Regions from separate parts of the Homo sapiens genome. Here region 2 is linked to region 1. A link means that fine-mapping ties the variant in region 1 to the expression of a gene that starts in the linked region. Tissue or cell type: lung. Region 1 holds a variant in brackets; the other region holds the start of a gene. All regions are shown on one strand. Distances are from middle to middle.

Region 1 (8,186 bases):
TTGAACCCTGAAATGAACCTTCCCAACAGAATAACAAATGAGTGGTGGATGCCTCACTGACAGAGACATAGATTGTCATTTTCTCAGATCTAGCCTGGACAAAAGATATCACAATGACCCATCTTTTCCCGCCACCCACTGTGCTGGAAAGGGCAAGTTTATCCACCCACCTCAGAAGAGAGGCTGCTGAGTGATTAAGATCATGGGAACCTGAGTGTCCTTGTAAGCATATCCTAAACATGTCCTCCTCTGAATGGTGGGAGGCCCCTGCCAGGGTATGCTTGCCACAACTCCATTGTCCTTATTCATATTTGCAGAGCTCTTCCTGGCTCTTTCATACCACAGAGCTGCCGTCAACCTTCTGCAAAAGTTCTTCCAAGGGTACTCATTAGCCAAAGAAGGATGCAGGGTAAGAGAGTGGAGAGGAAGAGGCAAGAAGTGCTGAGAGTCACAAGTAAGAGGCACTGGAAAAAGGAGAAGAAGAGTTGGGGAAAAGTATTCCCCATGTAGTTTTGATAAGTAAAATAGTATAGAATAGCATAAATCCACATTGTGCACATGAGACCTCAAGAGTTCCAAGAAGATATGTCAGGAGGTGCAGTAAAGTCATGGTGGGTTCTTCTTCCCATTCCTCACTTCAGTCTAAGTAGCTTTGTACAGTGCTTGACATGTTTGATAAACTTTGGTCTCTGCTAAAATGTTTCCCCATCACAGAGGAATTTTCTGACTACCATATCTGATTTACCAACTTCTCACCCCATGTCATCTACTTTACTTTTTCCATCGCATTTCTCACCACCTGCCATGCTAGATATTTCTTAGTTTATTTTCTCTCTCCCCAAATCTCACTGGAATGTAATCTCCCAGAAAACAGGAACTTTGCCTTTTTTGTTCTGTGCGGAATTTTCAATACTCAGTACCTGTCCCTTCATAGAGGCTCAATAAATACTTCTCGAATAGATGAATGATACATGGTGGCTAACAATTTTTATTGTCAAAGAGAATTTTGAAGCCCAAAAAGTGCACACAGCCCATGGTTCCCCTGGGAACAGGTACCGTTTCTGTCTGGCCATAGGATTCTCGGATGTCCAGTCCTGTCTGGGCCCTCCAGTTCTCCAGAGTTTCTGGAAGAAGGGACTCCCCTACAGTGACGCAGTTCTGTAGATGGGGGAACTTGTAACTGAAGAAGAGAAATAAATGTTTGCCCTCAGCCTCCCTGGAACCAAAGTCCACTCAGGCCTAGACTGGGTTTCTGGGTGCTTTGATGATGCAAATGGCTTCATGGGGCTCTCTGTGTGCGAGAGATTCAGATAGATAGGCATGAATGTATGTGAGGGAGTCAGGGGGATGGGGCCAGACTCTCTTACCAATCCTCAAAGCCCCATCACCTGGAAAGATCCTGCTGTAGCAACATCCGGTAAACAATGGGGGCACCCATCATACTCTTGATTGGATAACTGGAGAGTGTCTGGAAGACAAGAGCCAGGTGAGACATTGGTCACCAGGTCAAATGCCAACTTATGGCTATGCACAGTGGTTACAATTGTGAGCTATGGAGTTGTAGAGGTCTGGATGAAAACCCTAGCTTGTTTACTATGTCTGATTCAGGTTAAATGAGCCCCACAACTCTCATGCACCCTGAAGACACAAATAACAGGGAAATGAATACATATTATTGTAGTGAAAAAGTCTAAGGCTAATTTGAAACATTTTTGTCAAATCCTGGATGTCTGTTCCTGCCAGTTTAAGACTTGCCCTCGTTAACACACCCCTAGGAGTAGATCACCCCCCAGCAACTAAGGGAAGATCAGCTGCCTGAGCACAGCAGCTGTCTTGGTTAAGTTCCTTAACTTTCTGTAGCCAGCTTTATAATAGATTGTTTCCAGCCTTATTTTCCTGAAAATATTTTTGGAATATATTTTAGATATAAAAGTTCTTTGAAAAGCTAAAGACATCTATAGACATTTCAAAACAAGTGCTGCAAAAAGACCTAGTACTGAATACTTGCCATGTCCTGTGTTATCTCATTTAATTTTTACAATAACCTCACGGAGTGTGTGCTATCATCCTCATGATACAGAGGGGAAACCCATGATGTACAAGGTTAAGTAGCTGCTCCAAGGTCACCTAGTCAGCAAGTAGTGGGATCATTATTTGCAGCATGTATTCCTGTCGTATAACACCATCTCCATCCCATGCTTTTCTTTATGCAGAATGTAATAGAGTATTGTCTTAATCTGTTTTCTTTTGCTGTAACTGAGTACCGGAGACTGAGTAATTTATGAAGAAAATAAATTTATTTCTTGCAGTTCTAGGGGCTGGAAAGTCCAAGGTCAAGAAGCTGCATCTGGTGAGAGCCTTCTTGCTGTTGGGGACTCCGCAGAGTCCCAAGGAGGGTCGGGGCATCACATTGTAAAGGGGCTCACGAGGTAGAGCAAAACTGGCTTTTTATATAACAGACCCACTCTCCAAAACTAACCCACTAACAGGATAACCCATTAATCCATTAATCCCTCATGAGGCCCAATCATCTCTTAAATGCCCCACCGCTTACTACTGTTACACTGGGGATTGAGTTTGTTGATGAAAGGAGCCAAACTCTGTAAAACATTTGAAGAGATTTATTCTGAGCCAAACATGAGTGACCATGGCCATGACAGAGCCCTCAGGATGTCCTGAGAACACGTGCCCAAATTGGTCAGGGTGCACCTTGGTTTTATACATTTTAGGGAGACATAAGACATCAATCAAACACATTTAAAAAATACATTGGTTTGGTCCAGAAAGGTGGGGCAACTTGAAGCGGGGGCTTCCAGCTTATAGGTAGATTTAAATTTTTCTGGTTGACAATTGGTTGAGTTTATCTAAAGACCTGGGATCAATAGAAAGGAATGCCTTAGTTAAGATAAATAATTGTGGAGACCCAAGTTCTTATTTGCAGAGGAAGCTTTTAGGTACTGGCACTAGGCTTTAGACAGAACAGGTTGTAATCTTTTTTTTTTAATCAGACTTAAAGTCTGTATTGATGTTAATACCAGAGAGGTATAATGAGGCATGTCCCACTCCCACTTCCTATCATGGCCTGAAACAGTCTCTCAGGTTAAATTTTAAAAGAACCCTGGCTAAGGAGGAAGTCCATTCAGATGGCTGGCGGGATGGGGCCTTAGGATTTTATTTTTGGTTTACAAGTTTCATCATGAGTTTTGGGGGGCACAAATATTCAAACCATGGCAATGGTTTAAGCAAAAGGTCTAGAAAAAATGACAAATGTGAGTATCATGCAATAATTTCCTTCAAGTGTGCTTGATACACAGATATAAGCTATGAAAATGATCCCATATTCCTTATTGCTTTGCCTTACTAGAAGCTCAGCTTGTAACTACATACTCATTTGCTATATTTCTCCTTAATTTCCTTAGTCTTTTCCACCCTACACCTCCAACCTAAATTTTCCCAATGGGCTTTATAATTTTATGTCTGTTTTCATTTTTTTAATGGTGGAACTTAATAAAAACCAGTTCAAGTCCTTTTGAGAAGGACACAGAGTAAGAATTTGCTTAAAACAGAGAATGACAGTATTATTTGAAGATAATTTCCTATGAAAATCCAGATCACACCTGACTTTTTGACTTTTGAAGATGTCATCTATGCCTTAGCTTGAACCTTTGCTGCAGCCAAATAGATGTCTGGATGGGCCATTAGAGATCTGGGGGCACAGCAGGGAAATAACCCAATCCCTCTATCATAGAGTCCAACATAGGGTGTATCTTCATAAGCAAAATGAGGTCATTTTCATTGCTTTGTTGCTACAGGATAATGCATAGCTGCAGTCTGTGGGTCTTACTTAATGGCTGTACCATCAAGTTCTACAGGAAAAAATTCCATTTATTCTTCTGAATTGCTTCTAGAAAACCATCTTAAATTGGAAATAACCCAAAGTTCATTAACAATAGGATGGGGGAACATTTTTACAGATTCACATAATGAAATACTTTGCAGCCAGCTAAAACAACAAACATCTGATACATGCAACACGTGGACTAATCTCACAGAGAATATTTTGAGTAAAAGAAGCCAAATGCAAAAGATTACATATAATTTGGCTCCATTTACATGAAATTCCAAGAAGAGATAAAATTAATCTATGGTGATAGGTATCAAATGAATGATTAACTTATGGGGGGCAGATGCTGTCAGAGAAGGGGTATGAACACCTTCTGCAGTGGTGGGAATGTTTCATGTCTTTATCTGGTGGTGTTTACAGGGGTGTCTGATATGAATTGGATGTTGTGTCCCCACCTAAATCCCTATATTAAAGCTCTAACCCTCAACTTGATGGTATTTGGAGGCAGGGCTTTTAGGGGTAATTATGCAAGGTAATGAAGCAGGTGCCCCAGTGATAGCATGAGTGCCTTTATTTGTAAAAAGGAAGATATACCAGCACTGTCTCTCTCAACCATGTGAGAATATAGCAGTAAGGGAGCCATCAGCAAGCCAGGAAGAGAGGGCTTCCCCAGGAATCCAATTATGCTGGCACCCTGATCTCAGACTTACAGCCTCCAGAGCTATGAGAAGTAAATGTCTGTTATTTAAGCCACCTAGACTATGGTATTTTATTATAGTAGCCCAAGCTGACTAAGACAGTATCTAACACAGCTAAATTATTTTCAAACTGTACACATAGGATGGTGGCACTCTGTGTACTTTACCTTCAGTTTGTGTGTTATGCTGCAAATAAAAAAGGAAATGAAATGTGCACTCACA[AACAC/C]ACACACACACTCATGAGAGCGAGATGGCATCCCCTCCAATACTCCAGCTTTCCCTTTTACACGTGGTTCACCAGCATCTATCTGATAGGTGACACCAGCGGAAGAGCCCGTTACATTTGTTGAGTGAACAAATGACCTACAATATCTTTCTCCTGAACATACTCCTTTTATCTATATATGTGCCTCTCTCCTACCCCAGAACATGAGCTCTGTGAGGTCAGGGACCATTTCCATCTCGTTTACTGAACACTGTTCACCACATGGCAGGGGTTTAGCAAAAATTAGATGAATTGAAACAAACTACAATAAATTGAAGTGTGCAAACCTCGGGCTCACTCTGAATAACTGCTGCAAACTGGATCCTCTCTTACCTTTAGAATAACCAGTGGGTCAAACTTTGGCAAGAGATGAACAAATGTGCATGCTCCTAATGCCCAAGGTTCCATAAGTGAGCACAAGATGTTCAGTATCCAACCTGTGTCTGATATGGTCCACATTATATCAGAGGCTTGCAGGCCTGTCCAACTGAAAACACAGACAAAACACATGTACATATAGGTGGGTGCATGCTTAGGATGCGTGGGACACTAAGGTGTAGGGGAGGAAAGGGAGGTGTGTGTGCAGAGGTGTGTGTGTATCTGCCTGCAGGTTTATAGGCATATGTCTATGTATAAGTAGGAAGGGGGAAGAAAAGTTGTTCTATCCACACATCCTGTATCAACAGGAGATGAATGTTCAGAAGGTGGGACCCCGGTTGACCTGACTTAATATATAATTGGGTCTCATTCTCCTTCTAACTCCAAAACTCATGTAATTCTCTGTAGAGAGAAAGAGCTCAGCTTACCCAGCATCCATCTTGGCCTTGAGGCCCAGGCTCGAGTAGGAATGTTCTGCCATCTTGGGAAGACCACTGGTCCCACTAGTGAAGTAGATGGCAGATGCTTCCTGGCTTCCAGTCTCCACACAGTGATGAGTGGTGGATGCCTCACTGACAGAGACACAGATTGTCATTTTTTCAGAGCTAGACTGGACACCAGATATCAAAGTGACCCATCTTTTCCCACCACCCACTGTGCTGAAAAGGGCAAGTTGATGGACCCACCTCACAAGAGAGGCTGCTGAGTGATTAAGATCATGGGAGTCTGAGTCAATCAGAGTTGGGTTTGAAAACTACTGAAGTTTCACACTTTGTTATCAATGCAACCTTAAACTACTTATTTAACGTCTCTGTGTCTGACTTTATATCTGCAAAAAAAGTGAGATCAAGTCTTATAGAGTTATCTCTACCACCAAAGAAATGAGCAAATTGCTTAGTAAGAACTCAATAAATGCTAATCTAATTGTTGTGAAGAGCTCTGGCATGACACCAAGTGGACAGGAGGGGTGGAATTAATACAAGTTTTCCAAGTACTTTCTTGGCATTCTCTTCTATTCCCTGGAAGCACCTACATATCTCTTGGACATCTCCAGTGTCCTGATTTTGAGCCTTTAAAAGCAGGCATGATGGTGTTTATTTCCATGACAGCTACCTTAAAGACCATGGCATTAGAAAGGAAAAGCTGAAGTTATCCCTTCAAGTTTCCTATCATATGTGCCCCTGCTAGAGGGATTTCAGACATGTTGACAGAGAAAATCATTAATCCAGCCAGTCTTGCTATCGGCTTTTGGAAGGACTATCAAGGTCTTTCCATGCTATCAACACATGGAAAGTCCTCTGCCCTTGATCAGCCTCTCTTAGAGATACAAGAGGTGGAAAGAAGAGCCCAGAAACTTGGTATATCAGCCATCTCTTGGGTTTTCCCTCATGACCTTGGCCTCACCCCTGATTTGAGTCATAGTTCCAGTAAATTGTTCTGGGTGGGTTTCAACCCACTTGGTGTTAACATCATGTTGTTTCCAGTGTGCATCACAAGTGATTCACTTTGTGCCCCATAGTTTCTCTGTTTTACCATAGCATGGAACTCTGAGCCACTCTTCACGCATGAGTGCGCAGCCCAGAAGTGTGGAGGCAATAACACCCCCAGGACAACCCTGAACCTGTGGGGACCAGATGCTAATGGATCAGTGCTTTTCAATCCTTTAGAGGACAATCCTGGGAGGCATTCTATATGCTGCTCAGAAGGTCCAGGCAGATCAAGCCCCATTTAGTCCTTGCAATGATTTGAAAAAAAAAAAAAAAAAAAAAAAATACCCTTGTGTTAGCTTTTATTTCTTCCCAGCTTCACTCTTCCTAGTCCCATGCTGTTCTTTCTGCACCTCCTCAATAAAGCACCTGCACCTAAGTGCTTGGCTCTGTTTCCAGTTTTAGTTAAAACCCAGGCTGAGACATGTAGATACTCACTTTAGTAGTTTCTTGAAGTTCAGCCACCCATCACAGCTTTTCTCAGACACCAGTAGCTTAATTCTCAGAGAAGGACATTCAGATGCCACTGTGTCCACTTCTTGGATGACTTCATCCCCAGCAACAATAGCCTTGGCCTTAGACATCTGCAACCTATACAGTATGTCAGTGGATTTCATCTGGATGGTTCCAGGCATAAAGATGAGACCTAAAGAAGCCAACAATTTAGAGAATTGGAAAGGATGATTTTCTTTGTCCCTAGAGAAGCCTGAGATAAACATCAAGCAGCGAGCAAGTGGGGAAGGAGAGGATGAGGAAGTAATGACCAATAGAGAGTGTCAATAAAAAAGGGAACTAAGGACAAGGGAGTGAATGAAACCTAGGATTCCCTGGGTTGTCAGAGTCTTAAGGGCCCTACTGAGACAAAGAAAAGAAATTGAATTGCTAATGTCACATTGTTGATAGTCTAAGACACATACAATTCTCCTCACCCACTCTCACCCCTCAAAAAAAATTTTCTACAGGAGTTTGCTGTATTCAAAACTCTCATATGATAATTAAAGAATCATGAGGAAAGGCACTTGGAACTGTCCATGGTCTTGAAACACCAATAGCTCTAGGTCCTGGCAATTTATTTCATCCCTGGGACATTAAATGCATTTTTCTTAGATGAGAGTGCCTTCAGTTTTACATATCTATGTACACACAAAGTATAGTTGTATATATTTATTGGGTACAAAGTGGTATTATAATTTTTGAAGACAATGTGAGATGATTAAATTAAGCTAATTCACATATCCATCACCTCAAGTATTTAACATTTTTTTGTGATGAGAACATTAGAAAGTTTTGCTCTTAATGATACTGAAATTTACAGTACTGAATTATTAGCTGTGTTTAGCATGCTGTACAATTTATCTTAAAACATTAGACTTATTCCTTGCACATAAATGAGGTTTTATACCCCATGATTATCACTTTCCTAAATTCTTGTTCTTGTTTCCTATTTTAATGAGACTCCTTTGATTATTAAAATATTCTGTAGAATAACTAGACTTAGGGCCAGGTATGGTGGC
Region 2 (8,186 bases), 64 kb after region 1:
ATCCTGGCTTCATGTCTTACATGCAATTCTCATTTAATTCTCACTATTACTCTAAGTAGCATATGGTCTGACTACCATTTTACAGATGAGAAAGTTGAGATCTAAAGAACTTAGGGCACTTGTCCAAGGTCACACTTCAAGTACACGGATGAACAATGTCTATCTGACTGCAAATCCTGCTTTTAAGTCTCAGTCATCCTCATACCACCTTCATAAGTTTCACTACATCTGCTGACAGTTAATTTTATTGTATCTACTAACAATGCCATTTACTTCATATTTTTTCTTTAAACAATCTCTTCTTATAATTAACATGAATACAATTCTTTGAATTAAATTTTATATTTCCAGTTTTGTATTCTCCAGCTTTTCTTTTTTCACTTTTTGGTGAATCTATTGTTTGTGCCTACTGTTATCCACCACCTTAGGCAACAATGAAGTTAAACATTTGTCCGTAATTGTTTTGGACAAAAACCCCTAGGGAAAAGGCTTTTCTCATTGGTTAAGCTTCACATTGGTTGAAATACAGTTTTAGAAGTATGTCTTCCTCTTATAAATGAAAAGTTAGTATCATGTAACACAAATAAAAGGTAACCATGAAATAGAGAGACCCAACAGACACAGATATAAGGGAAAATAAAGAAGAAAGCAGATGCACAGAGACACACAAAGAAATCAGGGTTATCTTATTCAATTCTATGTATCTGTTATGATCTGCAAAAAGCTTTGAGCCTGAGCCCTATTCTTTCCTTATTTTATTTTGTTTTGTTGTATTTTATTTTATTTTTTGAGGTGGAGTCTCACTCTGTTGTCTAGGCTGGAGTGCAGTGGCATGATCTTGGCTCACTGCAACCTCTGCCTCCCGAGTTCAAGCAATTCTCATGCTTCAGCCTCCAAAGTAGCTGGGACTACAGGTGTGCGCCACCATGCCTGGGTAATTTTTTTTTATTTTATTTTTAGTAGAGACGGAGTTTCACCATGTTGGTGAGGGTGGTCTCGAACTCCTGACCTCAGGTGATCTGCCCTTCTCGGTGTCCCAAAGTGCTGGGATTATGGTCATGAGCCACCGCGCCCGGCCTTCTTTCCTTATTTAGAAGAGAAGGGCGTGACAGTGAGAGAAAAACATCAAAGACAGAGTAGCAGCAAAACAAAACTTCCTCCTTCAGTTGATGAACAACTGGAAGGGAATCGGAAGGGACATAACTGTCTCACTGTGTGATTTGGGCTCAAGAATGCAGGACACTTCAGAGAAGGAACAAGCATGTCTAAGGCTCACAACACTGACTCAGAATTTTTTCCTAAGTCTCAAATGCCAACAGTTTACATTTTAGAACTAGCAAAATTCCCAGGTCCAAATTTCCTCATCAACATGCTTGGAGCCTTGAGTCTCATTGTGGTACATGAGGGCAGCCTCAGATGCCCCAGATGGACTCTAGGACAGAACAGGCTTCACCTCTTCCAGCCGACTCCACACATCCAGCACATCATGGGCGAAGTTGAAGTACTCAGGCACCAGCTGCCTTCCCAGGCTGATGGCTTCCCAGGTGGCCACGATCTTCTGAGGAACAGGTAGAGGTGCTGGCTTCCCATGAGACCCACAGAATGCCCTGGAGTTCCTCAGTGCCTGGAGGACTAGGTGTCTCAGCCATGGTCTCATGCAGTCGCCTCCTGTCTGTCACCAAAGAGAGGAAAGAGGGCATTGTCATAAATTCTGGGCTTTGGGGACAACACATAGGTTAGGAGAAACCTGTGGTTAGTGCTGATGGTGACTGTGATCCTTACTGACTTGTAGAATAAACTCTCCACCTTCAGTCTCAGTTCTGCTGTGTGATGGTCATTTCTCTCCTCTGACCCCGAGGTCTGTCCTTTTGACCTCTCACTGACTTGTGGGTATCTGGGTCTGAGGTCAGAACTCAGATCCCACTTCTCAAACCTCAATACTTCAAAAGGAATCCCTCAAAAAGGCTTTGGCCAATCCTGAACTGACCTTGCAAAGCTGAAGACAGCTCTAGGGCAGCACTGTCCAACAGAAATAGAACGTGAGCCACCTGTGCAATTTACAATGTTCTAGTACTTCCATTAAGAAAAGTAGAAGCAGGTGAGATTTATTATAATAAAACATTTTATTTAACCAGATAGAGCCAAAGTATGACCATTTCAATTCCTAGTCAATAGAAGAATAAATTGTTAAAGAGATATTTTACATACTTTTATTTATTTTTTGTTTTTTTTGGTACTAAGTCCTCACAATCTGAAATAGACTTTACCCTTACAAACACATGTCAATTTGGACTAGCCACACTTCAAGTGCTCAAAAGCCACAAGTGGCTGCTGTATGGCATGATGGGCTTTTAGTGTCTTTTTAATTTTTTTATTTAATTTTATTATTTTTAAAATTTTTATTATTGTTGTTTTTGAGACAGAGTCTCACTCTGCTGCCCAGGCTAGAGTACGGTGGTGCCATCATAGCTCACTGCAGCCTCAAACTCAAGCAGTCCTTCCACCCCAGGCTTCCTAGTAGCTGGGACTACAGGCACTAGCCACCATGTGTGGCTAACTTTTAAAAAGTTTTTTTGTAGAAACAGGATCTCACTATGTTGCCCAGGCAGGGCTTGAACCCCTGGCCTCAAGTGATCCTCCCAACTCGGCCTCCCAAGTGCTGGGATTACAGATGTGAGCCACTGTGCCCAGCCCAGTTTTAGTGTCTTGCTACTCAAAGTGTGATCTTGGGACCAGCAGATGGGACCCCACCCTACATATGTAGAATTAGAATCTGCAAGTTAACGGGATCTTCAGATGAGTCATATGCATGTTAAAGTTTGAGAGGCACTGGCCCGGGAGCTGCGTGTGACCTCAGTTTCAGTTTCCTTGCATTAAATTCCTCTTAGTAATAATAATAACAAAATATGGTAATAACAACCAACAATAATAACGTGGCACAACAAGAAAAACCATAACAGCTTCAGTCTATTGAAGGCCTACTGTGTACCAAGCATTTTAAGAGTGCTTAGAGGCATTATTTCATGAAATCTTTATAACAACTCTATGCTGTAAATGTTATTTTCTCCATTTAAAGATAAAGAAAATGAGGCTTAAAGGGGAAAAGTGACTTTCAGGTTTCACTTCCTGGAAAAACATAGGCCCCAGCCTCTGCAGTGGCCACCAGGCCTAGGCCTGCAGCCTCAGAGACTTCCTTTCTCTGACCCACCTCTCCCGCCCCTCACCTCTCCCGCCCCTCACCTCTCCCGCCCCTCACCTCTCCCGCCCCTCACCTCTCCTGAACTGAGCTCTGCCCCAGTCCTTTTCCTCAGTCTCCCACCCCTGGATTCCTCAGCCACCTAAACAGCTGATAATTTAGAATCCCCAGGCCTCCTTCCCATTCCCCGACACCATTTCAGATGTCACTTCTTGATTTAATCAGCAAAGGCCTCAGAGGCAGCTGATACCTTCGTCTGAAAAATTTCTTTCCAAATTACCTTGCTCTTGAACCAAAGTAATGCAAAAGGTCTCTGTTTTCTGCTTCAGCTGAGCAGAGCAGGGCTGAGTGGCTGTAAACACTCAGCTCCCTCAGAAAACAGCCTCCCACAGGGAACTTCAGCCCCAAATGCAGCCAAGAGTGGGCAGAGCCAGAACCCAGCAGCTGACACAGTGGCTTCCAGTGGTCAGGGTGCATTGAGCCAGTGAGAGTGGCCCCCTGCCAAGTTTTCTCAGTACTCACAGTGGCTGGAAGATCAGACCTCAACTGTCGTGCCTGGTGGGTGTGCCCAAACTGGTGGATGTATTCCCTAAAAATTCAAGTCGCCATCTAATCGGAAAAAGCAACAGGAAGATTATGACGGGTTTTTTTTTTTGTTTGTTTGTTTGTTTTGAGACGGAGTCTCCCTCTGTGGCCCAGGCTGGAGTGCAGTGGCGCGATCTTGGCTCACCCCAAGCTCTACCTCCCGGGTTTGCGCCATTCTCCTGCCTCAGGCTCCCGAGTAGCTGGGACTACAGGCGCCCACCACCATGCCCGGCTAATTTTTTGTATTTTTTAGTAGAGACGGGGTTTCACCGTGTTAGCCAGGACGGTCTCGATCTCCTGACCTCGTGATCCGCCCGCCTCGGCCTCCCAAAGTGCTGGGATTATGATGTTTTAACAGAAAAGGTGCAATAGTGATAATAATATAAGTCAGACTTTGTTTCTTTTCTGCTTAGAACCCTCCAGTAGATACAGAGAGAACAGAGGAGTGGTTCCAGGGAACGGCTCTAAGGCATCCCTTTGAAGTCATAGAATTGTTCTAAATTTGGATTGTGGTCATGACTGCAGATCTCTGTAAATTTACTACAAAAAATAGTAATAATAATTGTACACTGCCAAAAGAAGTTTTTTGGGTTTTTTTGTTTGTTTTTGGAGACAGGCTCTTGCTCTGTCGCCCAGGCTGGAGTGCAGTGGCGCAATCTTGGCTCACTGCAACCTCCACCTCCCGGGTTCAAGCGATCCTCCCACCTCAACCTCCCGAGTAGCGGGGAATATAGGCATGCACCACCATGCCTGGCTAATTTTTGTATTTTTTTGGTAGAGATGGGGTTTCAACATGTTGGCCAGGTTGGTCTCAAATTCCTGACCTTAAGTGATCTGCCTGCTTTGGCCTCCCAAAGTGCTGGGATTATAGGTGGGAGCCACTGCACCTGGCCCAAAGGTGGTTTTTCGAAAAAGCTTCCTGCAACTCCCTATCTCACTCACAGTCCAAGCCAAAGTCCTGACGATTGCCGGGTGGGATGGCTCACGCCTGTAATCCCAACACTTTGGGAGGCCAAGGCGGGCGGATCACGAGGTCTGAAGATTGAGACCATCCTGACTAACACGGCGAAACCCTGTCTCTACTAAAAATACAAAAATTAGTCAGGCGTGGTGGCGCCTGTAGTCCCAGCTACTCTGGTGGGCGCCTGTAGTCCCAGCTACTCTGGAGGCTGAGGCAGGAGAATGGCATGAACCTGGGAGGCACAGGTTGCAGTGAGCCGAGATCGTGCCACTGCACTCCAGCCTGGGAGACAGAGTGAGACTCCGTCTCAAAAAAAAAAAAAAAGTCCTGGCAATTGCCTACAGGGCCCCACAGGAATTCCTGTGAGCCTTTCGCCTCAAACCTCCTGTCTCAGTCTGCTCCAGCCATACCGGTCTTTTTGTTGTTTGTTCTCTGAAGTTCTTTTTAAATTATTTTTAATTTTTGTGGGTACATAGTAGGTATATACATTTATGGGTTACATGAGATATTTTGATACAGGCATGCAATGCGTTAGAATCACATCAGGGTAAATGGGGTGTCCATCACCTCAAACATTTATCCTTTGTGTTACAAACAATCCATTTATACTATTGTAGTTATTTTAGGTGTATGGTTACATTATTTTTGAAGATAGTCATCCTATTGTGCTAGGAAATACTAGGCCTTATTCATTCACTCTTACTACTTTTTTGTACCCATTAACCATCCCCACTTCTCCTCCAACTCCCTGCAACACTTTCCAGCCTCTGGTAACCGTCCTTCTACTGTCTCCATGAGTTCATTTGTTTTCCTGTTTAGCTCCCACAGGTAAGCGAGAATGTGCAATGTTTGCTTTCTATGCCTGGCTTACTTCCCTTAATGTAATGACTTCCAGTTCCATCCATGTTGTTGCAAATGACAGGGTTATGGGTGTCCTATAGAGAGGATGCTGAGCCATTAACTGCCTATCTTTGCAGTGATTCAAACTTCACCCTGGATTTTTATCCATCACTGTATGTTGTTCCCCTGTGACTCTGTCTCATTTCCTGGCCTGGCCAGTTTGGCCCATTTCCACGCAGGCAGCTCCTCTCCCTTGCCGCCAAGCTTGGCCACAGGGAACCATCTTATGAGCCCTCAATGTCCATTTGCTCAGCATTCAGTCCTCTACTGCGACCCAGGATACAACCTCATCTCTGAATCTGCAGCCAGATGTAAAGATACAATCTCTACCCTCAGAGGGGTGGACGGACTGTTGAACATTATTTCTCCAGCAGTCTAATCTCAATATCGTTACTCTCAATCAGTACTTTTTAGAAGAATATATAATCATAAGTCATGACAAATGTTTCATAAATGTTCAATGAAAGAACTGGATACACTTTATAGACAATATAATCACAATTTTATTTTTAAAAAGTATATATTAATCCCATACGTAACAAAATATGAATGTTTCTCTAAGTAAGATGATGTATGATTTCAATTAACTCATTTTTTCTGTATGTTCTATGTTTTAGAAATTAAATCCTGTTCTTTTCTAATCAGAAAGAAATTAATGTTATTTTATAAAAAGAAGCTTTAAGCCGGGCACAGTGGCTCACGCCTGTAATCCCAGCACTTTGGGAGGCCGAGGTAGGTGGATCACCTGAGGTCAGGCGTTTGAGACCAGTTTGGCCAAAATGGTGAAACCTCGTCTCTACTAAAAATACAAAAATTAGCCGGCCGTGGTGGTGCATGCCTGTAATCCCAGTTACTCAGGAGGCTGAGGCAGGAGAATTACTTGAACTCAGGAGGCGGAGGTTGCAGTGAGCCAAGATTGCACCACTGCACCCCAGCCTGGGCAAGAGAGCAAGACTCTGTCAAAAAAAAAAAAAGCAGCAGCAGCTTTATCAGTAAATGAGTATCATCATAAAAGTGCCTATGTTATGTCAAGAAACAACTGTGTGCAAGAGTGAAGGAAAATGAATGAAGGACATTTGGGATAATAACCCAAGTGTTTTAGTTTGTGACTAACAGTTGACAAGTGTGAAAGATGTCAAAATAATATATGCCAGACTAGATTGTTGATTTAGGCCTGGGAGAAAAAAGAGTCAAACACATCCCAGGAATTATTTGCAAACACAACATCCAGAAAAGGAATAATTGCCAAGAAAAGTTGAAAGGGACATGATGAGTTCAAATTAAGACATTCAGATATTCAGTGAGTGTGGTTCAACCAAAAAGAGCTTTTCTAATAGGCAGATGGAAAACGGTCTTAATAGTAAATGTAATCAATTGATCAAATCCTGGAGAGTAAATGAGAGAGTAACTTATAAAGGGGTGTATTTGAAGTCATGCATTTAAACAAGCCAACAAAAGTATGGAAGTTAAGTATGGAAAGAGAAGAGTGGGGCCGCATGCCGTGGCTCACGCCTGTAATCCCAGCACTTTGGGAGGCCGAGGCAGGCAGATCATTTGAGGTCAGGAGTTTGAGACCGACCTGGCCAATGTGGTGAAACCCCGTCTCTACTAAAAATACAAAAATTAGCCAGACGTGGTGGTGCATGCCTGTAGTCCCAGCTACTCAGGAGGCTGAGGCAGGAGAACCGCTTGAACCCTGGAGGTGAAGGCTACAGTGAGTGGAGATCGCGCCACTACACTGTCTCAAAGAAAAAGAAAAGAAAGAGAAGAGCAAAGCGCTAGGACTAAAACCCACAGATGTTAAAATTTAGTGAAATGAATGTTAGTCATCTCCATCAGTATTTAATAACAGTTGGGCAGCAGATAGCCAAAGGCTGCAAACTCTGACAGTAATAACGATGCTAATAATATCAACAGCCTTTTCTTTATTCATTCAACAAATATTTACTGAGCACCTATCACCAGGTAAGCAAAGTAAATTATGTGGAGTTTAGAAGAAAATTAATGCTATGAAGGAAAATAAAGCCTGGAAGGAGGATGAGGAACGCCTGAGAGGGGGATGGGGCACTTACAAATTTAAACAAAGTGGCCAGGAAAGGCCCAACTGTGGAAGTGACATTTGGGCAAAGACTGGAACGAGCTAAGGGGTGAACCCTGAGTCCACCTGGGTGAAGAGCCTCCCTAACAGGGGAAACCACAAGTGTAGAGGCCCAGACATTGTATTGGAGGACTGGCAGGGACACCAGTGTGGCTGGAGCAGGGTGAGTGGAGATCTTTCTCCCCTAGGAGATGAGGCCAGGGTGGTGATGCGTGAGGGGCTCCTGCCTTCTAGGTACTGAGCTGCTCGTTTTGCATAAATCCTCTTATTTTATCCCATCCCCCTCTCAGGCGTTCCTCATCATCCTTCCAGGTTTTATTTTTCTTCATATCATTAATTATCTTCTAAATTCCACATAATTTACTTTGCTTACAACACCCCCATGAGTTAGATGCCATGTAACAGGCATGGAAACTGAACCTCAGAAAGAGTAAGTGACATTCTCA

Evidence for each region. PIP is the estimated chance that this variant, and not a neighbour inherited with it, causes the effect.
Region 2: it holds the start of ACSM5, and the variant in region 1 is fine-mapped to the expression of ACSM5 in lung (TOPMed, PIP 0.93).

What each region holds. Positions count from the first base shown.
Region 1 is chr16:20,468,644-20,476,829 of GRCh38, reverse strand. It overlaps ACSM2A (acyl-CoA synthetase medium chain family member 2A), which reads right to left. Exons shown (of 14, transcript NM_001308172.2): 4 at 7,111-7,318; 5 at 5,614-5,757; 6 at 5,141-5,294; 7 at 1,389-1,468; 8 at 1,057-1,180. Among named protein-coding and RNA genes, the nearest start is that of ACSM2A, 21 kb to the right of the region's middle. The variant AACAC/C (reference allele first, on the strand shown) is at 4,765.
Region 2 is chr16:20,404,956-20,413,141 of GRCh38, reverse strand. It overlaps ACSM5 (acyl-CoA synthetase medium chain family member 5), which reads right to left and starts at 3,608. Exons shown (of 14, transcript NM_017888.3): 1 at 3,477-3,608; 2 at 1,454-1,672. The coding sequence starts at 1,657.